Homo sapiens: one gene and its partners. The protein of the gene in region 3 purifies or fractionates together with the protein of the main gene of each other region. This does not show direct contact. Each region holds a gene or a part of one and is shown on either strand. Other genes may lie near its edges.

The links.
Region 1: the proteins of SLC45A4 (region 3) and CNNM1 purify together in Homo sapiens (affinity purification with mass spectrometry; one large-scale study listed by BioGRID and IntAct). This does not show direct contact.
Region 2: the proteins of SLC45A4 (region 3) and GLDC purify together in Homo sapiens (affinity purification with mass spectrometry; one large-scale study listed by BioGRID and IntAct). This does not show direct contact.
Region 4: the proteins of SLC45A4 (region 3) and UBE3C purify together in Homo sapiens (affinity purification with mass spectrometry; one large-scale study listed by BioGRID and IntAct). This does not show direct contact.
Region 5: the proteins of SLC45A4 (region 3) and PISD purify together in Homo sapiens (affinity purification with mass spectrometry; one large-scale study listed by BioGRID and IntAct). This does not show direct contact.
Region 6: the proteins of SLC45A4 (region 3) and ANKLE2 purify together in Homo sapiens (affinity purification with mass spectrometry; one large-scale study listed by BioGRID and IntAct). This does not show direct contact.
Region 7: the proteins of SLC45A4 (region 3) and SLC25A21 purify together in Homo sapiens (affinity purification with mass spectrometry; one large-scale study listed by BioGRID and IntAct). This does not show direct contact.

Annotation. Positions count from the first base shown.
Region 1 is NC_000010.11:99,384,856-99,388,355, reverse strand, and holds part of CNNM1 (metal transporter CNNM1), read right to left. Parts: intron 537-3,500; coding exon 353-536; intron 205-352; coding exon 55-204; intron 1-54. UniProt on the Homo sapiens protein: Probable metal transporter.
Region 2 is NC_000009.12:6,531,967-6,534,848, forward strand, and holds the end of GLDC (glycine dehydrogenase (decarboxylating), mitochondrial precursor), read right to left. Parts: intron 2,823-2,882; coding exon 2,742-2,822; intron 1,195-2,741; coding exon 1,051-1,194; 3' UTR 501-1,050; downstream 1-500. UniProt on the Homo sapiens protein: The glycine cleavage system catalyzes the degradation of glycine.
Region 3 is NC_000008.11:141,252,789-141,256,288, forward strand, and holds part of SLC45A4 (solute carrier family 45 member 4), read right to left. Parts: intron 1,984-3,500; exon of another isoform or gene 1,842-1,983; 5' UTR 1,442-1,841; coding exon 1,201-1,441; intron 1-1,200. UniProt on the Homo sapiens protein: Proton-associated sucrose transporter. May be able to transport also glucose and fructose.
Region 4 is NC_000007.14:157,180,426-157,183,925, reverse strand, and holds part of UBE3C (ubiquitin-protein ligase E3C), read right to left. Parts: intron 2,409-3,500; coding exon 2,255-2,408; intron 1,819-2,254; coding exon 1,598-1,818; intron 49-1,597; coding exon 1-48. UniProt on the Homo sapiens protein: E3 ubiquitin-protein ligase that specifically catalyzes 'Lys-29'- and 'Lys-48'-linked polyubiquitin chains.
Region 5 is NC_000022.11:31,652,216-31,655,715, forward strand, and holds part of PISD (phosphatidylserine decarboxylase proenzyme, mitochondrial), read right to left. Parts: intron 1-3,500. UniProt on the Homo sapiens protein: Catalyzes the formation of phosphatidylethanolamine (PtdEtn) from phosphatidylserine (PtdSer). Plays a central role in phospholipid metabolism and in the interorganelle trafficking of phosphatidylserine.
Region 6 is NC_000012.12:132,748,333-132,751,832, forward strand, and holds part of ANKLE2 (ankyrin repeat and LEM domain-containing protein 2), read right to left. Parts: intron 2,518-3,500; coding exon 2,311-2,517; intron 1-2,310. UniProt on the Homo sapiens protein: Involved in mitotic nuclear envelope reassembly by promoting dephosphorylation of BAF/BANF1 during mitotic exit.
Region 7 is NC_000014.9:36,711,107-36,714,606, forward strand, and holds part of SLC25A21 (mitochondrial 2-oxodicarboxylate carrier), read right to left. Parts: intron 377-3,500; coding exon 212-376; intron 1-211. UniProt on the Homo sapiens protein: Transports dicarboxylates across the inner membranes of mitochondria by a counter-exchange mechanism.

The DNA of each region.
Region 1 (3,500 bases), on a different chromosome or scaffold from region 3:
TGCCCAAAGGCAATGATCTCCCTTGCTGCACTGGGCCCAGCTGGCCTCCCTGACCTGCTCTCGTGGGAACGGCTGCAGGAGACAGCGTGAGCTGCTGTGTGCTGTGCTCCTCGAAGTCAGTCATTTCTTCCTGGGTGAAGGCCAGCTCCTCCATCCTCAGGTACACTACCTCGCTGGGGCTTCTCAGCCCGTCTGAGCGGCTGCCTGGGGAGGACAGTGAGTGCATCACCTCTCTGCTTTGGAGAAGACCCAGGGCTCAGGTGGTGTGAGCCCTGGGAAGGGCTAGAAGAGGAAGGCAGGGTCATCCTCACCCCACACCAGCCCAGCCTGCCCGTCTGCCCAGCTGACTTACACGGCAGGCTGTTCCTGTTGTTGAGGAGCGTGATGGCGGGGTCATCCTTAGGGGTCTGGGGTGTGCCCCGGGTTGTGGGGGCCTTAGTGGAGTCCCCGTCTGTGAAGGCCTCCATGTCAGGGGACTGAGGTGAGCTGTCCATGTGGCAGGCAGTGAGTGCGTTCTGATATTGCTGCCGTGTGATCTGGAAGGAAGAGGGCAGGAGCTTAGGAGCAGCTAGGCAGAGACCACCCGGATGCAGCCAGCCTTCCCAGGCTCGGGGGCAGCCTCGCTGGGGTGCTTGGAACCCTCGGCCTCTGAGGCCTGAGATCCACGAATGGGGGCCTTACCCACGCTGTAGCAGTCCAGCAGGGACAGTGAGGCGGCCCTTTGCTGGTCTGCCACCAGCTCCCACTGTTCATTTTTATTGGCACCTGGAAGAGCCAAGCCTTCTGAGACCCTGGAGAGGATGGAGGGCATCTTCTGAGAGCAGGGTGGTTGCCCATGGAGAAGTTTAAAACACCCATTTATACTATTGCCAAAGGCCCAAAGGGTCAGTCGGGGGTGACTTGGTGAGAATAAGGTAGGACTCCAGCAGGGAAGCTCTCATGCCCTAGGTCTCAGTGTCGGGAAGCTGGAGGCTAAGGCCTGAGAGAACACAGGCATTTCTGATTTGGACTAAGCCCATCCCTGGATGTAGGGTCATGCTCCTATGCTGGCTGGGACCACAGCAGGGAGGTTTCCCAGCTGTCTCCTCAAATCACAGGAGTCAGACTTGTGACTTTCCTGATGTGTCAAACACCCACAACTGAAGGCATCCGGAGGGTCAGGCTGCAGCCAGACCAGACAGGAGTCTCCACGATTCCAGGCAGGAAAAATATGGATCAAATATCTCTTCTAAAAGGCAGGAGGGTGTCTCTGTCACCCCTGTTCTCTGGGTGTACATAACAGACTGGCACTGTGAATCCTTGCTAGCAGTGAAAACAGACTAGGTTGTGTGCCACCCAGTACAGGAATGTGAAACCACTCATCAGCGGCTGGCACTGGGGGAAGAAGGGAAATGGTACATGGCATAATATCCTTCCCAATCATACCATCTCCTAAAGCGTTTTCATCCCTCCTTCACTGCATTAGCGCTAGTGAACGGACAAAACCACAAATTCTGCTCATTTTGCCTTCTCTTTCCTTTGGGGCAGAATTGGTATTACACGTTGAAAGAGAAAAGATTTCTGCTGGAAATAGGAGAGGGGATGGTTAAGGCTGACATGTTGGGAAAGAGAGTAGGCTTGAAGTTGGCTTTGTATCCGGCAAGGTCTCAACAGTGGCTCCTTGTCAACTACTGACAAGACGCATTATTTTACTGGACACGATCAATCCTTTCTTTAACCAACTTCAGGATATTTTGCAAGAGAACCAAGCAAATTCTAAGCACAACCAATCGAATCACAAAACACCAGTTAAGAATACGTGCCTTTTTGCAGAGCATATGGGACACATACATGCAGAGATTCCAGGCTTCTAGTTATACTACTGCCCATTTGAGTGGGCAAATAGAGTTTTCTCTTGATGGTTTAAATCAGTGATTCTCAAACCTCAGCATCAGAATTATCTGAAGGACTTGTTAAAACAAGATTTTTGGGTTTAACTCTCAGAGTTTCTAATTTACTAGGTCTGGGGTGGAGACTGAGAATTTGCATTTTTAGCAAGTTCCTGTGTTCCTGGTGCTGCTAGTCTGGAGATCACACTTTGAGAACTGCTGACTTAAGACCTAGTTAAAATTAGTTACAGGTACTACTCAGGTTTTGGTTTTTTTCTTCTAAAGGATTTTACAGGACAAAGCAGCAAAGTGTTAACAACTGGCTTCGATATTTTTCAGGTCAAAATGGTATATTCCATGCTTTATGGCATGGAACCACAGGTCTCCACTTAGCATTTATCCAAAGTCTTCAATCGATTCAATGTTCTTGTTGAAAACACCTGACTTTTGCAATTCCCTCTGTTGGGAAGTGAGAAGTCACGTTCCAAAATTTCCCCCAAAGATGAGGAAATTTGGCTCTAACACCAAAGGATGGGAAAATTCCCTAAATGACACTTGGTAAGCCCAGTAAAGCAGTTGATCTTACTCTGTTTGGGTTCTTTAGTTATTTAGATTTGGCTTCTAGTTTAGTCAAAGGCCAAATGTCCCTTCACCTAAGAAATATGGCAGGAAACACAGTGCCAAGAACTGAAGTTCAAGTCCCAATTTTGCCACTTTCAAGCTGGGAGACCTTGGCCAAATACATATACATTTTTAATCAGCCAATGGGCAAATGAATACACTGGCCACATTGTTAACCTCTCTGATCTTATAAAAGAGGCCCAGAGATAATGAGATAACATGAGTGAATCCATTATATGAAACTGTTAGGAATGGTTGTTTAAAACATGCCCACATGCATGTCTCACCATTTGACTTTATAATGGGCATACATTTCAAAGACAGCTGTCAAGCTTACCATCTCATTATGTCTAAATTGCTGATGCCACACACAGGGTGGAGGTGGGGGAAGGAGCAGTGTCCTCTCTGCCCCCAAAGTCAGTGTGACTGGAGATTCTGTGAAAGCAAGACTAGGTCTTGGAAAAATAAATCCTTAATCAAGAAAATAAAGCAAAAGGGAAAGTAGGGGAAGGAAGGCAATTCCGACTATGGACAGTGGAGAAGCGGGACAGAAGGAAAGGGACAGTGAGTGAAGAAAGGAGAGGAGGAAGAGAGAAGGAAGGGGCTGTTTCAGTAGGCTTTGAAATGGATTTCCTGGCTCAGGGCCCCTATAAGTTGGTAGACTGGCTGCGTCCCCCAGGCTGGAAGTCTCTTGGGAATGACTACTGTTGCAAAATGCTCTATATTATTTAACTAATTTATTTTTGGAAAAGTTCTGCCCAGATTTTATCTTCAGTGAGTTGTACCACTCTTTTTTTAATTTTTTTTTTTTTTTGAGATGGAGTCTCGCTCTGTCTTGCCCAGGCTGGAGTGCAGTGGTGCAACCTTTGCCTCCCAGATTCAAGCAATTCTCGTTTCAGGCTCCTGAGTAGATGGGACTATAGGTGCACACCACGACGCCCAGCTTATTTTTTTGTATTTTTAATAGATACGGGGTTTCACCATATTGGTCAGGCTGATTTTGAACTACCG
Region 2 (2,882 bases), on a different chromosome or scaffold from region 3:
CTCCAACTCCTGACCTCAGGTGATCCTCCCGCCTCAGCCTCCCAAAGTGCTGGGATTACAGGCATGAGCCACCGCGCCTGGCCTTTGCTCTTCCCTTTTAATCCTAACTAGAATGGGTATGTCAGACGCCTGGAAATGCAACAGCCTTCTTGAGACCATGCGGATGAAAATTTTATGCAAAGGAGGGCAGAGCGGGAAAACTGAAGGAGCACCAGTGCTTGGCTTATTACCTCTGGACTTAAATGAGAAAAGATAAATTGCTATTTGATTGACCTTCCATAGCTGGAGTACAGTTACATGCACTCTAACTCAGTTCCAACAAAAAGGGTCAAAGTGGTTTTCACTGTTGACCAAGACAACTGTTTCTTCAGCCAGTCGAAGGCAAAACTGATGATGTAACAATGGCTATTGGGTTGGGTGTTCTCATTGCCCTTCAGCTCCCACTGAATCTAGGTTGTAACGGTGGTAAAACTATAAAGTACACCAAGAGAAAGGCATTCTTCCGATCAAGATGCTTTTATTAGAATACTAATAAATGCAGATTAAAAAAAAAAAAACCTCACACAGAAAAAGAGGAGAACACTCAGAAATGTGATTACAGATTAGGCATATTAGAGGAAAAAGAGTTCTTCAGGGTATACAAAATGTAAACATTTGCCCTGGGATTTCCCACAGATGGCACAGTCCACATGGACTCTTTTGGAACAAAAAAATGTCTATTAAGTCTCCAGGATAGCCTCTATGACATCTGCAAACTTGCCACATTAAAAGTTAAAGTTCCTAAAACTTTCTACGCAAAACACAAAATGGCTCCCAATCCAGGCAACTGGCACATGTGGAAGCAGAATACCAAAGCAAATCCGTCTTCCAACCATCAGCTTCGACTCCCTCCAGCTACTGTATTTACATTTACCTTGACAGAGATTACAGAGATATACACAGTATATAAAACTCCTACTTGAGGCTGGGGTGGGAGATGAAATCTTTCTTGCTTATCAAATGCTCTGGGGAGAGGCATCAAATCAGTCCTTTAAACTTAGGGACAGAGGACTAAGAAGACGCCCTCTTTTGTTCAGAAAATGGAGACTCATAAACTTCCATGGGTGGGCAGGTACAAACCAGGTGCTGATCTCCATATATGTCATCAATCCGGGCAATCGTTGGCCAGAATTTGTTCTCTGGTTTCACGAAGGGCTGCAAAGGACAAAAGATGGAAATGCTGTGAGATGTTCTGGGAGGTTTCTCTTAGGGCAAAGGAGGTGGCAATGCTAGTCCCACAACCTAAGACACCATCAGCCCAGCAAATATTCTGAGAACCTAAAATCCAACCCTACATTACCATTTAAAAAAAAGAGGCATTTCCCAGGAGGCGTGTCCCTGATCACCACCCCTGTTAAGCATCCCTATGTGCTGTTGATATCTGGACCAGTTTATAGCAAAGTTGTGTTTGAAAGACTTCAACTGCTTAAAGAAGACTTTGGAATCTATGTTTATCTGCCCATTATATCCTTAAGTTTGGATATTTAGCTGACCTTCTCTTTTAACATAGGTCTAATTTATTTGCTATGTCATTTTCCATACAATTCAGTTGATTTAAAAGTTAATTTCTCGGCTGGGCGCAGTGGCTCGTGCCTTTAATCCCAGAACTTTGGGAGGCCAAGGCAGGCAGATCAGCTGAGGTCAGAGGTTCGAGACCAGCCTGATCGACATGGAGAAACCCCATCTCTACTAAAAATGCAAAATTAGCCAGGCATGGTGGCACATGCCTGTAATCCCAGTTACTTGGGAGGCTAAGGTAGGAGAATCGCTTTAACCTGGGAGGCAGAGGTTGTGGTGAGCCGAGATGGTGCCATTGCACTCCAGCCTGGACAACAAGAGTAAAACTCTATCTCAAAAAAAAAAAAAAGTTAATTTCTCATACTGTGTATTAAAATAAAAATTTGAACGATTAAAAAAAAAGCATCAGCTGGGCGTGATGGCTCACGCCTGTAATCCCAGCACTTTGGGAGGCCGGGGTGGGCGGATCACGAGTTCAGGAGATCAAGACCTTCCTGGCTAACACAGTGAAACCCCGTCTCTACTAAAAATACAAAAAATTACCCGGGCATGGTGGCAGGCGCCTGTAGTCCCAGCGGGAGGCTGAGGTAGGAGAATGGCGTGAACCCAGGATCATGCCACTGCACTCCAGCCTGGGCAACAGAGCGAGACTCCGTCTCAAAAAAAAAAAAAAAAAAAGAAAGAAAAAAAAAGCATCATTTTGTTTCCTCTCCTCTCCAATGAATACAGGATTTACCATTCTCATTATGTTTTTATACTATTACTGCATAGATCCATAAACAGCACATAGCATAATTTGGCACATTTTTAGCCTTCTCCCTACCTCACTCAAACAGACTACACAGAACCTTCTCCTCCATATAAGAATCAGAAAGGAAAGGAAGGTTGCACTGGGCGCCATCTCCCTGTCCCACAGTGGAGGGAAACACATTGGTCCACTGGGCAGGACTCGTATTCAGTTTTCCCCCACTCTGTTCCCTATGGGTTCCCAGATCTGTGGTTGATACTGTGTGACCTCGCCTCTGAAAGCCAATTTCTTTGCTCCTCATTCCTCTTCAAGACCCTTATTTCACAAGGTGCCCCACATATGGTTTCTGTAATCATGAGGCTAAGAGCGTACACCCGTCAGGATAGGAGCTGGCCCATGCCTTCCCAGCTGGCACATTCAGATTCAGAGAACTTACGAGTGGGAATGCTGCCACCTCTCTGGAATAAGGCCGGTCCCAGTGGGAAGATGTAACGCAGGTCAGGGAGTGTGGAGACATCTGAGACAGAGACACGGACAGAGGAGGGGTCAGAGCAATACACTCTCTTCTCCTCCTACC
Region 3 (3,500 bases):
CTGTGAATTTCCGTGTTTTCACGCCCACCTGCGTGTCTGTGAATTTCCGTGTTTTCATGCCCACCTGCCCGTGTCTGTGAATTTCTGTTTTCATATCCACCTGTGTGTCTGTGAATTTTCGTGTTTTCATGCCCACCTGCGTGTCTGTGAATTTCCGTGTTTTCACGCCCACCTGTGCGTGTCCGCGAATTTCCGTGTTTTCACACCCACCTGTGCGTCTGTGAATTTCCGTGTTTTCACACCCACCTGTGTCTGTGAATTTCCGTGTTTTCACGCCCACCTGCGAGTGTCTGTGAATTTCCGTGTTTTCACGCCCACCTGCGAGTGTCTGTGAATTTCCGTGTTTTCACGCCCACCTGCAAGTCTATGAATTTCCGTGTTTTCATGCCCACCTGCGGGTCTGTGAATTTCCGTGTTTTCATGCCCACCTGCGTGTCTGTGAATTTCCGTGTTTTCATGCCCACCTGTGTGTCTGTGAATTTCCGTGTTTTCATGCCCACCTGCGTGTGTCTGTGAATTTCTGTGTTTTCATGCCCACCTGTGCGTCTGTGATTTTCCGTGTTTTCATGCCCACCTGTGCGTGCCTGTGAATTTCCATGCTTTTGGAAATGCCTGTCTCTGAGCCATCTACTGTCCACAATAACCTTGGATTCAAGTCAACAGCAACAATGATAAGATGACAGCATCTTCCAGTATCTCCCACAGCCAGGCACTGTTCTAAGCACACCTGGGACCCTCTTAGGGTTGGTTTGCGAATGCAATCACTTTACACACAAAGAATCAGAGTGTGGCACAGAAGGGCTCCCGAATTCGCCTGCATGACACAGCCAGTGACTGTCAGTGCTGGCGACCCTGCCCTTTGCCTCGTTGTTCACTGTGGCCTGGCAGGGACAGCGGGAGAGGTGAGCCCCGGCCGAGAGCCAGTACTTATCAGTGCCAATTCTGCCCCAGATGCTGAGCTACCACTTTGCCAAAACTGTAATTCAACGTCAACATCCGAAGATCACTCCTCCCCAAACCTGGCTGAAAACAGGAGACGAAAACCACCATCAGGGCAGGCTGAAGGGAGAGGAGACAAAGACTCCAGTGCCCGGGGCTCTCCAGGACGCACCATCCTCTGCCTCCAGAGGATCAGAGCCACGCCCAGTCCGCTAGCACTCCGCTCAGCGTTCACTGCGCACAGACGGGGAGGAGACTTACCAATCTGCAACAGTATTGGTGTGACCAGAGCGGTTTCCATGGCGTAACAGAACTCCCTGCCAAACATCACCGCCCCGTGCATCACCCACAGGCGCATGGGGATTCGGTCTATGGACCCCTCGCTGATGGTCTCGCAGTTCTCGGCCTCTGCGCCTCCGGCTTTCTGCGGGTCCGGCAGGGGCACGGATAACTCTTGAACTTGCATAGATTCCGGGTCGGCATTCTGCGGAGCCATTTTCATTACCACCAAAAATATATGTATTTATCTATATATTCTATCTATATAAATAATGCTTTCATATATCTGTAATGATAAATTAAGACGTCTTCTCTTTCTGCTTCTGCTGTGTTCCTCGGGCAGGTAACACTTACATTCCTCTTTGCACAAGTGGCTATCTCACAACTTCTCACAACGGTATGAGACATGCAGCAACACAGAACGATTTTTGGTTGGATTTTAAACATATGGCTTGCTGGTTTACTGTGAATTAGAGTTAAAAATCCATAATTGCCATTCAGTTAATACCAGTTTCATCATTATTACTGAAGAGGTGCTGAAGTGATTTTTCTTGCTACAGAGAGGTGGGAAGGTGATACAAACAGGTGGTCCGCTGGTAATCCCCATCGAGTGACTGGATGATCTGCAAAAGAGGAAAACAACCCGGCCAGAGAGTCAGGGGACGGCCACCAGATGGCCCTGTGGACCGCCGCCCGACCCCCGAGCAAGCCGTGTGCCCCGAGGGCCCGACCCAAGATCACACAGCTCTCTGCCACTCACTCTGGGTACGTCTGTGCAAATAACCAAACCTACTTTCTAGAAAAACATTTTCTCATACGAAAGTGAATCCTGGGGAAGGACAAAGGTGGGGCAATCAAGGAAAGCAGGATCAAAGAACAGACAGAGAAAAACGCTGGAAATATTCACTCTTTGGCCAGTAACAATATCGTCCACCCTGTGTACCACAGCACGTAACTATTCCAGCAGGCTGGAGGCAGCTGGCGACACCCTTTGTGGCTGCAGATATCATGAAAGGGAAGTAAGGAGGTGAAGGGAAAAGTGGGGGAGGTAGGCAAAAGAGAATCAAAAGGGAAAACTTTTGTTTAAAAAAGTTTAATTTGTTAGTGACAAGGTCTCGCTCCGTTGCCCAGGCTGGAGTGCGGTCACACGACCATGGCTCTCTGCAGCCTCAAACTCCTGGAATCAAGTGATCTCCCACCTCATCCTCCCGAGTAGCTGCGACTACAGGCATGCACCACTACACCCAGCTAATTTTTCTAGGGTCCCCATTACATTGACCTGGCTGGTATCCAACTCCTGGGCTCAAGCGATCTACCCTGCCTCGGCCTCCCAAAGCACTAGGATTTACAAGTGTGAGCCACCGTGCCCAGCCAAAAAGGGAAACTGTAGACCCTGCCTGGAGAGGTGGAAATTAAAAATAAAAAGCAGCTGGGCACGGTGGCTTAAGTCTGTAATCCCAGCACATTGGGGGGCTGAAGCAGGTGGATCACCTGAGATTAGGAGTTCAAGACCTGCTTGGGCAACATGGCGAAAGCCCATCTCTACTAAAAATACAAAAATTAGCCAGGCATGGTGGCGGGCGCCTGTAATACCAGCTACTCAGGAGGGTGAGGCAGGAGAATCACTTGAACCCGGGAGGTGGAAGTTGCAGTAAGCTGAGATCGCACCACTGCACTCCAGCCTGGGCAACAGAGTGAGACCCTGTCTCAAAAAACAAAAACAAAAACAAACAAACAAAAAAAACAAAAAGAAAAGAAAAATGAAAAGTAGGAGGCTGGGTGGAATGAGCATAGCATGATTCTCTGTCCGGGGGGAGTTCGAAGTCTACCCAAAGGCACCTGGACTCCTGTGGTATTGGCCTTTAGGTTATAAAACCTCTTGGGAATAAAATGAAATTATAGACCTTTTCTCCAGAAAAAAATGTACGCATGTGCCAAACTCTGACTATAGTACCTAGGGGTTCGGAGACTCCCAACCCACACGCAGCTTTCCCAGGGTCTACGGAACCCTATCACCCCAACCCTCGGCTTTCCACCACCCTGCCTCCAGTGACAAACCCAGCTTGGTGACAAATTCCCCACCTGGGCAAACACATACAATAAAGCAGCAATAAGCTAACTGGAAATGCCACCTTGGAAATGTTTTAGGAAATGAGGTCAATCTCTCCTCAGGTAAGATAAGATCGGGGATGTGGAACACCCCAAGTTCAGGACTTCTGGAGTTAGGTCTCCAGACATGGGGTTCGGTTCAACTGAAGTGTTAGAGCCCCTAAAAACACACC
Region 4 (3,500 bases), on a different chromosome or scaffold from region 3:
TCTGCAGCACCCGCAAATACACCAGCAGCCCTTCCTCAGAGAGGGCCCCTTTGCAAAACAATCAGTTAAAACGTATTTTAGTTAAACATTATTTTTTAAAATGGAAAACGAAGACGCCATTTTTCCTCACACGCAGAGAGGCATTTCTGACCAGATCTTATTTTTAAAATTCTAACTGTGTTATAATAGGAAACATATTTAGATTTTGTCCCCGTTCATGTCAGAAAGCACCTACAACTCTTGTAATTTCTTGAAAGATAAAGAGTCTCTTGTTATTCATAGCCAGCCCTTTGTGATCATACTTGAGGTGACTTATGGTGAGGCCATCTAGGGGACTCAGAATGGGGCTTTTCACCAGAAAAACCAAGTGATCAGAGGGTTGGAACTTTCAGCCCCACGCACCAACTTCCAAGGGGCTGTCTGTGGGAGGGACACTGGAGAAGAAGCACCATAAAACTCAACAGGAAGACACAATGAGCTCAACACAGGGAGGTGCCGAGAGTGTGGAGTGCCTGGAGAAGGCATGGAAGCTCCCCATTCCCGCACACCTCGACTTCCCGAGTTCTGTGAACTGTCTTAGTCAATTACCAATCCCAAGGAGGGGCTGAGGAACCCCCATTTTTGCAGGTTGGTCAGAAGTATAGGTGACAACCTACTACTTGTAATCGGCCTCTGAAGTGGGTGTAGTCTTGCAGGACTAAGCCCTCAGATGATGGGATCTGACATTATCTCCGGGTGGACGGCATCAGAATTGAACTGAATTGTAGAATACCTAGTTGGTGTCCACTGAAGAATTGCTTGGTGTGTGGGAAAAAAAACCCCACATTTCTGCTCACAGAATTTTTCAGTGTTGAGTGAGAGAGTAAGAAAAACAGTTTGGGCTGGGCACAGGGGCTCAAGCCTGTAATCCCAGCACTGTGGGAAGCCGAGGCGGGTGGATCACGAGGTCAAGAGATTGAGACCATCCTGGCCAACATAGTGAAACCCCGTCTCTACTAAAAATACAAAAATTAGCTGGGTGTGGTGGCGTGCACCTGTAGTCCCAGCTACTCAGGAGGCTGAGGCAGGAGAATCACTTGAACCCGGGAGGCGGAGGTTGCAGTGAGCTGAGATGGAGCCACTGCACTCCAGCCTAGTGACAGAGCGAGACTCTATATACCCCCCCGCACCCAACCCCCAAAAGTTTGGTTTTCACATTTTCCTATATTTCTTTCATGAATAATTCATGCATGTATGTATGTATGTATGTTTTCAAACATACTACAGGAAGATGTTATTCTAGAAGAGGCACACTGGAAATTTAGCAGAGGGAGGGAAACAGGCCTGACTCACAGAAGAGCTTTCCCATTTAACTCTGTTAACTCTATTAAAATAATCTGTGTGGCCTCATAAGACACATATATATGTCAGTCTTTTCCACTGTATCTGGAAACTGTCCCCAGGAACACACTGCCCAGACCACATCCCTCCAGCAAATACACTCCTCCAGGAGAGGCCCACCTTTCCATAACACCTGCCACTGCATGGCCTTCTCTTGACTCATCTGCCAATGCTACCCATATGTGTGTTCAGGTAAAAAAGATCTTGTATTTCATACCCAAATAATTTTCGCCAACAGTTAAAACGAAATAGAAAAGCCAGGGTGCTCCACCACTCTTTCTTGAACATCTACTCTCTATTAACAACAGTGCATTCAGAAAGGGCTCGTAAGGGAAAACGGTCTGCGCATCTGCAAGCGCCGGAATGATGAAATGAAAAATCTGATCTGTAAAAGGTGCTGCCAGAAACTCCTCTGTGAAGGCTGTAAAAACTTGTTGCCTGAAAAAGAAAAACAGAAGCTTTTTATAAAATCAAATTATACTGTCCATCCAATCACTGATTAAAATCACCTTTCAAAATATCCTTCTAAAAGGATAATCTACTCTTCTAAATTAGCCAAGTTAACCATTTTAATATCAACTAGATCAACCTAAAGTAAACTTAATGTCTTCTCTATTAAGATAACTACCATGTTTTCGTTAATTTTTGACAGTTACTTAGAAAAGCAGGAAAATAACCATGTTATCAGAATCACAAATTTGTATTAGGCTACAGGCCAGAAAGAAAAAGTACACTTTCCTATAAACTAAATCAACACTAATAAAGTAAAAACCTGAATTTCAAGTCTATATTTAAAATCACATCCTATGTAAAAGTTACCATCAGATATAGATCTTGTGAAAGGACAAAATCAATAAATCCATTCCAGTCTCACCTCGCACCTTCCGGACAGGAGTTGTAAGTAAAGTGCAATGGTTTTAGAACATTCTCTAGCAAAATTTTTGCTATAGGAACTCGAGATAAATCAGAATATTCAATACTTGATGGAAGCTTGCTGTTAATCAACAAATATAGAGACCTATAATACCCTAAAAGGAAAAACACATATTTAAAATTTAGTGCCTTTTCCTGTAATAAGGGAAAAAACTTGCCAATTTTTAAATGCTTTTAACCATCTCTACAGGTCCAAACTTAAGTTAGTTCTTTAACATGCTAGCAAGGAAAACTAAACAAATATATAGGCAGCCGAACGGTATACAAACCTCATGTACCAACAACTGTCAACTACAGCCAATCTCATTTCACCTGTATACCACTCATTTGGAAGGAAGTCTAAGATATAATTATTTTAGTGTATCATTAAGAGACTATTTTTAAAAACATTATCACAGCTAAAATAAATGAAGAGTAGTTCCTTAACATCACAAATATCTAGTCAGTATTCAAGTCTCCAACTGTCTCATGTTAGAAATTCTATTTAACTAGTTTGCTTGCATCAGGAAGGAGCTCAATAAGGACCACATATTGTGATCTTATAATTTGTCTCTGATTTGTGCATTTTTTAAACACCGTGTTGAATTCATAGAGTTGAACATATTGGTAGGTTTCATTCCACTGTAGTCCTGACCTCATGCTGCTCCACCTGGGGCCCCGGGGTGGGCTTTAGGAGGCTCCTGAGCCCCAGGGTCACTGGCAGTCCTGCATCCCGCCCTACAATCAGCCTTTTCTCCAGAAACTCTTAAGCTCCTTTTAGAGGAGATGATGTATTTGGAGACCACAATCTGGGAACTGAAGAAGTTAACTGTTTAAAGGCAGCTTATACGTAAACTGAAACAACTTTCAGAACCTCTTAAAATATCCAGCCTACGCTTCTGATAGGAACTCTGGGTGGGAGGCAGTGAACATAACTCTGGGTATCAAGAATGATCCAAATCATATATTCTTTCAGAATCATTTACTCCATTTTTATAGAATAAGAAGGTTCAGGTGCAATTTTTGAGTATCTCATCATATACAAGCGTATTTGGTAGCACATTAAAAACAATCCATCTGCATGGGCTAGTTTTTGAAACAGTCCTACACAGCTTCGTATTTGAGTGAAGATCACCAAACAATGCATACTCAGTACTTTATCATTAGACCTACTTTGTAACTACCCCAAGTCTAACCTAGTGTATACT
Region 5 (3,500 bases), on a different chromosome or scaffold from region 3:
CCACCTCCCGGGTTCAAGCGATTGTCATGCCTCAGCCTCCTGAGTACCTGGAATTACAGGCGCATGCCACTGCACCTGACTAATTTCGTATTTTTAGTAGAGACAGAGTTTCACCACGTTGGCCAGGCTGGCCTCAAACTCCTGACCTCAAGTGATCCACCTGCCTCGGCCCGCCAAAGTGCTGGGATTACAGATGTGAGCCACAGCACTTGGCCCAAGTTATGTCTTGTATAGATATCCTACAAATGTTATCAGATTTAGGTACTTTCCTTTTTTCACATAAAATTTCCTTGCCTTACAAACACCTGGCTGAGCACATGATGGCTCACGCCTGGAATCCCAGCACTTTGGGAGGCCGAGGTGGGTGGATCACTTGAGGTCAGGAGTTCGAGACCAGCCTGGCCAACATGGTGCAACCCCGTCTCTACTAAAAATACAAAAATTAGCCGGGCGCGGTGGCACACATGCTGTAGTACCAGCTACTCGGGAGGCTGAGGCAGGAGAATCACAAAACAAAACAAAACAAACACCCCCCTTGCCAGGCTGGGCATTGTGGTTCACAACTATAATCCTGGCACTGTGGGAGGCTGAGGTGGGAGGATTGCTTGAGCCCAGGAGTTCAAGACCAGCCTGGGCAACATGGTGAAACCCCATCTGTACAAAAAATACAAAAATTAGCCGGGCATGGTGGCATGTGCCTGTAGTCCTACCTAACCAAAAAGTTGAAGTGGGAGGATCGCCTGAACCCAGGAGGCAGAGGTTACAGTGAGCCGAAAACACGCTACTGTACTCCAGGCTGGGTGACAGAGTAGGACCCTACCTTAAAAAAAAAAAAAAAAAAAAACCACACCCACCTTGCAGCATAGCACTATTGTAGCTAACATGATGAATCTGATTCTCCTATAGGCAAACAAGGAGAAAAAGCATCTTACCATGACGAGCACCACCCCCAAGGCCAGACAGCTATTAACACAATGAAGGGTATATTTCAGTATATGAAAGTTCTTTCAGTTCTGAACAATGTTCATTTCTTAGACTGGATACTCCCACTGCCACAGCAAAAAGCCTAAAACCCTGCTTTCTAAACAGAATTTTAACGAGAAGTGCAAAAACGGACTGAAGGATAAATTGTTGTGTTCTGTACATTGCCGCATTGTGTTTTCCAGAATACTGAAAAACCCCTAACTGAAAGAATGTTTGCACAATGATTAACAAGGCTTTGTCTGACAGGAGGAAATAGGAATGGGAGATGATCATTTATGTATCCACCGTAACTGGACACAGGGCACTCAGGTGGTTTGTTTTGCATATCCATCTTCCCCCTCAGGAACCCTGCCCAAGAACAAACAGCTCAGCTTTTTGTCCACCGCTGTAGTCCCAGCTGCTGGAACAAATACTGGGAAATGCTTCATTATATCAGTTTGGTACATCAGATTTAGGTACTTCCCTTTTTTCACATAAAACTTCCTTGACTTATAAACACCTAGCTGAGCATGGTGGCTCATGACTGTAATTCCAGCACTTTGGGAGGCCAAGGCGGGTGGATCACTTGAGGTCAGGAGTTCGAGACCAGCCTGGCCAACATGGTGAAACCCCATTTCCACTAAAAATACAAAAATTAGCCAGGTGTGGTGGCACACACGCTGTAGTACCAGCTACTCAGGAGGCTGAGGCAGGAGAATCTTATTACGGGATCGTCCCGATTTTCATATGAATGCTGTCATTTCTTCAGTCTTACACAAACACTGTCTACCATGCTATCATTCTTTGGTCCTCCCTACTTTTCTGCTCTCCTTCATTCCAAGCCTAAAAAGAGCTCTCCACTCACTGTTACCACTTCCTCACCTCTCAGCCTCTCTTAGTCCCACTCAGTAAGGTTTTGTTCCTATCACACCACCTCATCAAGGTCACCAACAACCTGCATGTTGCCAACACCAATGCACACACATATCTGAGGTCTCATCTTACTTGACGTCTCAGCAGCATGACACAGTTGATCCTTCTCTCCTTGAAACACTCTTCACTGGGCTTTTGGGACCGTGATTTTTTTCCTATTTCTCTGGTTTCTTCTCAGTCTCTATTTGTGAATTCTCCTTTGCTTCCTAACTGTGGATTCTTGCCATGCCCAGGGTTCAGATCTCTTCTCTACCTATAAACTCTCCCCAGAGATGCTTATCCAGTCCCATGGCTTTAAAGAACCATCCACTGATGACTCCTTCATTGCTCCTCCAGGGGCCAGCTACCCAATGGCCCCATTTTGAGTCCTCTCAAACTGAGTCTGTAGAAGACAGGATTCCCGACCCTCTCTAACTCACCTTCAATCTGCTCCTGCCCGAGTTCTCTATCCATAGGAGAGACTAGCCAGATGTTTACCAAATGCACTTCCTCTTCTGGACACCTGTTAGACTAAATTTCCCAGCCTCCTGTGCAGCAAGGTGTGGCCATGAGACTAAGTGTGAACCAATGAAATCTGAGGATCATTCGGGCTTCCCAGGCATTCACCTCCAAGCTTACCCCCACCAGCCAGCTTGATGCAGACAAACATGCCGACTGTGGGAAGTATTAAAGATGGCAGGAAGGCCAGGCGTGGTGGCTCACACCTGTAATCCTAATACTTTGGGAGGCCAAGGTGGAGGAATTGCCTGAGCTCAGGAGTTTGAGACCAGCCTGGGCAACACGGTAAAACCCAGTAGCTACTAAAATCCAAAAAATTAGATGGGCGTGGTGGTGTGCCCCTGTAATCCCAGCTACTGGGGAGGCTGAGGCAGGAGAATTGCTTGAACCTGGGAGGCAGAGGTTGCAGTGAGCCGAGATCACGCCATTGCACTCCAGCCTGGGTAACAGAGCAAGACTCTATCTCCAAAAAAAAAAAAAAAAAAAAAAAAGACGGCAGGAGACTGGGTCCCTGAACATTGCTTGGAGAACAGCTGCCCTGCCAATCAGGAACACCCAATGCAGCTTTACAAGAGTGAGAAACTTCTACGGTGTTAAGCCACTGAGAATGCTGGAGTTTATCTGTTACAGTACCAACATTACTATAATTAACACAACAGGTCAAAAAAAGGTACCACCGTTCATCCAGCCACTCAGGTACAACCCCCTTTTTTTTTTTTTCCCAGAGATGGGGTCTCGCTTTGCTGCCCAGGCTCAAGTGCAGTGGCATGATCATAGCTCACCGCTGCCTCAAATTTCTGGGCTCAAGGCATCCTCTCACCTCAGCCTCCTGAGTAGCTAGGACTACAGGTGTGCACCAGCACACTTAGCTAATTTTTAAATATTTGTGGAGATAAATAAGGTCTTGCCATCTGGCCTAGGCTGGTCTCAAACTCCTGGATTCAAGTGATCCTCCCACCTCAGCCTCCCAAAGTTCTGGGATTACAGGCATGAGCCACTGCACCAGGCCAGGACTCGTTTTTGTTTTGTTTTGTTTTGTTTTTGAGATGCAGTCTCGCTCCGTCACCCAGGCTGGAGTTCAGTGGCGTGATCTCAACTCACTGCAA
Region 6 (3,500 bases), on a different chromosome or scaffold from region 3:
TGTCAGTAAGAGACAGAATTTAAGAACAATCAGTTTCACCAAAAGTCACTCATCACCCATGCACCCTCTGATGAGGGATAAGCAGCTTTCCACAGAGGCTTCTGGGCCAACTGGGAGGCACAGGTGAGAAAAGACGAGAAGGGCCCACGGCCACCGGCCCCAGCATGCAACGCAATCAATGGCAGCCAGCGTGCCCGTCAGCAGAGCAAGTGAGGGAGAGCAGCCAGACCCGGCCACAATCTCACTGGGGGCCCCAGCCTACAACGGCAGCCAGCGCGCCCCCATGAGCACAGCAAGTGGAAGAGCAGCCAGACCCTGCCACAATCTTGCTGGGAAAGGCTCTGTGAATGAGGCCAAGTTTGGTGAACTTTGTGTTTTTTCAGAGACAGGGTCTGGCTCTGTTACCCAGGCTGGAGTGTGGTGGCACGAATATAGCTCACTGCAGCCTCGACCTCCTGGGCTCAAGTGATCTCAGGCCCTCAAGTAGCTGGGACTACAGTTGTATGCCAACACGCCTGGCTTATATACATATATATATATATATATATATACACACGTATTTTTAGAGATGAGGTCTATGTTGCCCAGGCTGGTCTCAAACTCCTGGCTTCAAGGGATCCTTCTGCCTCAGCCCCCAAAAGTGTTGTAATTACAGGGACGAGTCACCACACCCGGCCAGTGAACTCTGAAAGCTCGGTCAGTAGGTGGAGGAGGAATAACGGCAGCAGCGGGCAAGGGAACACTCCCAGAAATCACGCAAGACCTTCGATGTGCACAGTGTGGCTGCAAAGGATTACAGGATTAAGGAGCCTGCCACCACGCCCAGCTGATTTTTTTGGGGGGGACGCAGTTTTGCTCTTTCGCCCAGGCTGGAGTGCAGTGGCGCGATCTCAGCTCACTGCAACCTCCGCCTTCCAGTTTCAAGCAATTCTCCTGCCTCAGCCTCCCAAGTAGCTGGGATTACAGGCACCTGCCACCACGGCCAGCTAATTTTCGTATTTTTAATAGAGACGGGGTTTCACCATGTAGGCCAGGCTGGTCTCAAACTCCTGACCTGAGATGATCCACCCGCCTCAGCCTCCCAAAGTGCTGGGATCACAGGCGTGAGCCACCTCGCCCGGCCTGATTTCTGTCTTAAGGTGATTTCCTTCTGAGGAATCCTCACAAATTGCAAAGAAGGAAATCCGTACCTGTTAGAAGCCACTCTGGTTTCCATCCAGGAAGCACCTGTATAAGGCTGACTGAGGGCAGGCGGATGACTGGAAGGAGAGGGCAACATTCCTCTGGAGTACCAGCCCGCCAGGGAAGCCCAGACAACTGTGAGCTGCGAGAGGGAGCAGGAACTGAGGCCAGATGAAAGGTAAAGGCGGAGGTTCTACCCCACACTGACCGTGAAGAGCCTCTTCACACAAAACCCTAGTTCTGAGCTGGGAGGTGGGCATGGGTCAGACTTCGGGCTGGACCGCTCCTACAGATAAGCCCGCCTTCTCCAGATGCCCTAGTCCTTGAAGTAGGTATAGCTTCAGGTGGGGAAGTAGACTGGTTTCAGGATCCAAAAAGGCGCAGGGGCTCACGCCTGTCATCCCAGCACTTTGGGAGGCTGAGATGGGAGGATCACTTGATGCCAGCAATTCAACCAGCCTTGGCAACATGGCAAGACCCTGTCTCCATAAAAAAAGTTTAAATTCTAGCCTGGCCAACATGGTGGCTAAAAATACAAACATTAGCCGGGTGTGGCAGTGTGCACCTGTAATCCCAGCTACTCGGGAGGCTGAGGCAGGAGAATCGCTTGAACCCGGGAGGTGGAGCTTGCAGTGAGCCAAGATCGCACCACTGCACTCCAGCCTGGGCGACAGAGCAAGACTCCATCTCAAAAAAAAAAAAAAAAAAAAGAAAAAGTTTAAATTAGCTGGGTGTGGTGGTGCACGCCTATTTCTCAGCTACTTGGGAGGCTAAAGCAGGTGGATTGCTTAAGCCCAGGAGTTTGAGGCTGCAGTGGGCCATGATAGCACCAGACTGCACTCCAGGCTGGCAAAAGAACAAGACCCTGTCTCTTTACAAAAAAAAAAGAAAAAAATCCAACAGACACGGGGACAGATGGAAGCGGCCACAGCGTTCTTTTCAGCTTCTCCAGAGTCAAGATGCTAATTACACGAGCATCAGAGCCAGCATGGCCTCCTGGTCCACTGAGACCCCATCGACTCTACCCTCATGGAGAAAACAAGTTACCACATCAGAGGAAAGAAGGCACAAAACAGGGTGGGATCAATGTGACAGGAACATCAAGATGTGAACGGCTGCATGATTTACCTTTCAACCTGTCATTGCTAAAGAGTGGAGCTGTTTTCACAGGAGACAGTGGTAAGGACGTTTTGCTTGGAGAAGGGAAATAATCACAAATTCCTCTAGCAAATTTCTCAGCGTCTTCTCTGGTAGAAAAAGCTTTAAATCGGGACCCTTTGATCATCTTGACAGCTTGCAATGCTTCCTTTTTATTTTCATAAACATAGATCCTTTCTGGGTAAGAAAAGTAACAAATGAAAATCAGAGAAGAGTGACTGGAGAGCTGTCACCTGGCCATGCCCTGGGCCTAACCATCAGCTTCCACATCTGCTACCCAGTCGCCTGGCTTAGTTCAGATCTTTAATCCTGAAGAAAAAGGGCCTAAGCTAGCCAAAATAGAACAATTAACAAGCTCGACAGTGTGCATATATGCATGTAACATGATATATATTATGTTCATATATGTAATTCTATATGCCAAGATTCTATCCTAAAAACTAAATTTCATATAAAGATCTAAATAAAAATTATTAAAAGGCAAATTAAAAAAAAAAACTATAATTATGTCAGCCAAGAACATAAGAGAATTTTAAACACAATTTTGAACAGGGAACGCCTTTTTATTTTTTACTTTATTTTTTTTTTTGGAGACGGAGTCTCGCTCTGTCGCTCAAGCTCAAGTGCAGTGGCACGATCTTGGCTCTTGCAACCTCTGCCTCCCAGGTTCAAGCGATTCTCCCGCCTCAGCCTCCCGAGTAGCTGGGATTATGGGCATCCGCCACCATGCCTAATTTTTTGTATTTTTAGTAGAGACGGGGTTTCATCATGTTGGCCAGGCTGGTCTCAAACTCCTGACCTCAGGTGATCTGTCCGCCTCGGCCTCCCAGAGTGCTGGGATTACAGGTGTCAGCCACGGCGCCCAGCCGGGAATGGCTGTTTTTTTTTGACATGGAGTCTCACTCAGCTGCCGAGGCTGGAGTGCAGTGGTGTGATCTTGGCTCACTGCGACCATCATCTCCCAGGTCCAAGCGATTCTCCCGTCTCAGCCTCCCGTGTAGCTGGGATTATAGGCACCGGCCACCATGCCTGGCTAATTGTTGTATTTTTAGTAGAGACGGGGTTTCACCATGTTGGCCAGGCTAGTCTTGAACTCCTGACCTTAGGTGACCTGCCCACCTCAGCCTCCCAAAGTGCTGGGATTACAGGCATGAGCCACT
Region 7 (3,500 bases), on a different chromosome or scaffold from region 3:
ATGTGAGCTGGGCAATTTCCTTGATCTTTCTAAGACTCCACTTCTGGATTTGAAGCAGGGATAACAGCACTCAATGCAGATGTAAGGATCAAATTAGATAATAGATGTAGGTGTCCAGCACAGTGACCAGGACAGGATAAACATTCTACAAACGGAGCTATCATCACTGATAGGATTTTTCCTCCAGGATTTTAATTTATTAAATAGTTACCTTATTGACAGGAATCATGTTTTTGACATTGTAGTAGAAGCCAAAATAAACCATGTTGAAAACTCCATGTCGTCCCAAAGTTGCAGTTAATCCTTTGTTGAGGCCCTGGAGTCCCCAGCCTTCCTTCTTAATGATTTGTCTTGCATAACCCACAGTGGATGGTTGCTGCAGAAGAGAGAAGCAAGGCCAGAATGATCATCTTTGGGACTGTGGAATACAGTAAATTACCGTATTAACTTCCCTTCAAGCCAGAATTATTAGGGACTTTTTTCCCCCAGATATGAATAATCATGCCTAGAACTGTGTTTTTTAAAATCAGCAAACCCAAGAAGCAAACAAAATTGCATGCATAAAAACAGGCTTTATAGAAAAGATTGTTGGCAAAGAACAAACGATTTTGATAGGATTAGTGAAACTGATGTTGTATAATAACTATCATCACTTTCAACATGTAAGTAATTACATCCAATTCTGGATTATTCACACTAATGAAGGAGATTAACCATATAGATATTTGGTAATCCATAACTATACATTATCCAAAAGGAATTTATATTTGGCTCCTGAATCTAGTGTATTTACCTTTCTAATTATGTTTTTCTAAAGCTAATGTTACAGTTTTGATTCAATTGCCTCAATGGTTGAACCTGGCACTATGTTATAAATTGGCCATAAATAAATAGCTGTTGATTGTACACGTCCTCAAGCAGATATGCAATCAGTGTGCGTATCACTGCTGTGATAAATTCTACATAAATGGTGTTGGGAGTACTTGGTTACCACCTTGAAATTACTCCTTTCCAGTCCCCTGATTGATTACCCAAGGCTGAAATGTCCTGACTGCTAGAATCCAGTCTGGCTGAAGAGCTCACTGCTGTTACCCTGAGATTTACAATTCATTACAATACAATTACAATTCACATGGGTTTAAAAAAAAATGTATGAGTGGTTGTTTCTTTTTTGAAGGCACTGTACAAAAGATATCTCTCTCATATTTTCACTGAATAGTTAACAGGGGAAACTGTTCAGTGCTTTTTTTTTTTTTCCACCCATGAGGCACACACTGACATGACATTTGTTTGATATTTCACTAAAGCAGGTTGTTAGCGTGGTTGTGGCAGTCTGGCACACTTTCAGACTAAAAGTATTTTCTTATCATGTGCAATTAAGGCTACATCAGCAGAATAGAATAGAACAAATCCCATCAAGGCTTTTCTTCCCATCTGCATTTATAATAGCTATGTAATTAATGTGAAACATTTAAATGAGCTTGTTTATATAGTAAATCCTATAGTCTTTGCTGATAAATGTTTTGAAGACTCTAGCTACAATTCTACACTCAACTTCATCCATTAATTTAAGGGAACTAATTACAATCAATTACAATAAGCTTAAGAAAACCCTCCTTTGTAATATGAAAAAACCATGGTAGAATACATCTTAAAACAATAAGACATATCATACAGGAAAACCAAAAAATTTTCTGAAGGTTAAAGTTTACTTTCTGTTTGACAACATGAGATTTTTTTGTGTTTCAGCACATTGACTTTCACCCCCAAATCATTATTTTTTGGTTTTCAAAAGAGATAGGACAAGTTGAGCAGAAACTCATTTTTGTTGGAAAGACCCTGGAAGTGCTGAGTAAACTGCCCAAGTACTGCTATCTTGCTTCAAGGAAGGCAGTCTAGAGGTGGGGGAAGGAGAGGGCAGCTTTCCTGGGGGTGGGAGGAACAGGACAGAGGTGAGGCTGCCTGACTAACACAGGTTCTCCCTGCACCCAACCTAAACCTTTTCTCCATCCTCACTCCTCTGAGGTCTTGAGGGCATGAGGGCGGAGGAGCTCCGAGGCCATCTAAGTTTTAGAGCAGCAGAGAAACCAACGGCTCTAAAATAAAGTGCAAATGACAATGGCTTTCCCTAAAAACATGGGTATAAAGATGTTTCTATTGTTTAAAAATCTTAGTTTGCTAAGTCATTAGAATTAGGATGACTAAACTAAGGATTAATTTGGATAGCATCTTTCTCATCATCTTGAAAAGAGATTTCTCCTAGATCTCGGTGAGAGCTGACAAATATTCAAGTGGCATTTGCTAATTGTCTGTTTCCTGATTTTCACTGGCTTGGGTGCTGTGTGTGTATAAGCAAATGTAATGCATCATTTTAAACTCAAGTGCTTTGTTGAGTTCGGACTCTAGTTGTCAGTAATTAATTGGAGAGTAGCATAGTAATTGGAAATAGGAGCTCAGAGCTAGACAGTTCCAAGTTTGAGTCTCAGCAATACCACTTGCTACTTTGGCAAGTATTTTATCCTCTCTGATTGATTCTCACTTTATTAATTTCTAAATTTCTAAATAAGGATAATGATAGAATCTTCCGGAGGTCAGTGGCTTCTGCAGTGGCTCAAACCTGTAATCTCAGCATTTTGGGAGGCGGAGGCAGGAGGAGTGCTTGAGCCCAGGAGTTCAAGACCAGCCTGAACAACATAGTAAGACCCAGTCTCTACAAAAAATTAAAAAATTAGCCAGGTGCTGTGGCAAGCCTGTGATCCCAGTTACTCAGGAGGCTGACTAAGGAGGCTGACGCAGGAGGATCACTTGAGGCCTGGAAGGTGAGGCTGCAGTGAACTGTTATCCTGTCACTGCATAGTGACAGGCTCCAGCCTGGATGACAGAGTGAAAGCAAGACCCTATCTCAAAACAAAAAAAGAAAAAAAAATCTTCCTCACAGGATTGTTGAGATTGTTGAAAGAAGTCAATGAACTTAGTCCACTGTAAACAACTTAGTCCATTCTAAGCATTCACTATACATTTAGGTGTTAACGATAATGGCAATTATGCTGACAATCATAAAAATAGTTATAACAATAAAATGACAGGTGATTTCTTTGTTAGTTGAAGGCAGTGGCAACCAAAAGCTGGAATCTGATTTGAGGGAGAGAAAGCTTCTTTTTTTCTTCATTCCTTCTGGCTGTCCTTTCCTTTTCCCAGAGTCCCAGACCTTTGTGATAAAGTCCACCAGAAATGCATGCAGAATGCAAGATAACAGGTCTGCTTCCTCTGAGACCCAACCAAATTCAATGCTTGGGGTAGAGATCTTGTTCCAGGTACAGTGCCTCACCCAGGAGCTTTCCTCTCTGGAGCAGTAAATCCTATAAATTGGCCTCTTCCTTATCCCTCAAGGTGAGTACCCTGGCTAAGATCTCTGCATATGGCAAGTCTGTGGGCTGTAGAAGTAAGGCCATACGGGAAGAAAGGCTGGCAATGGAAAAGCACATGAATTGGGCTTCCCC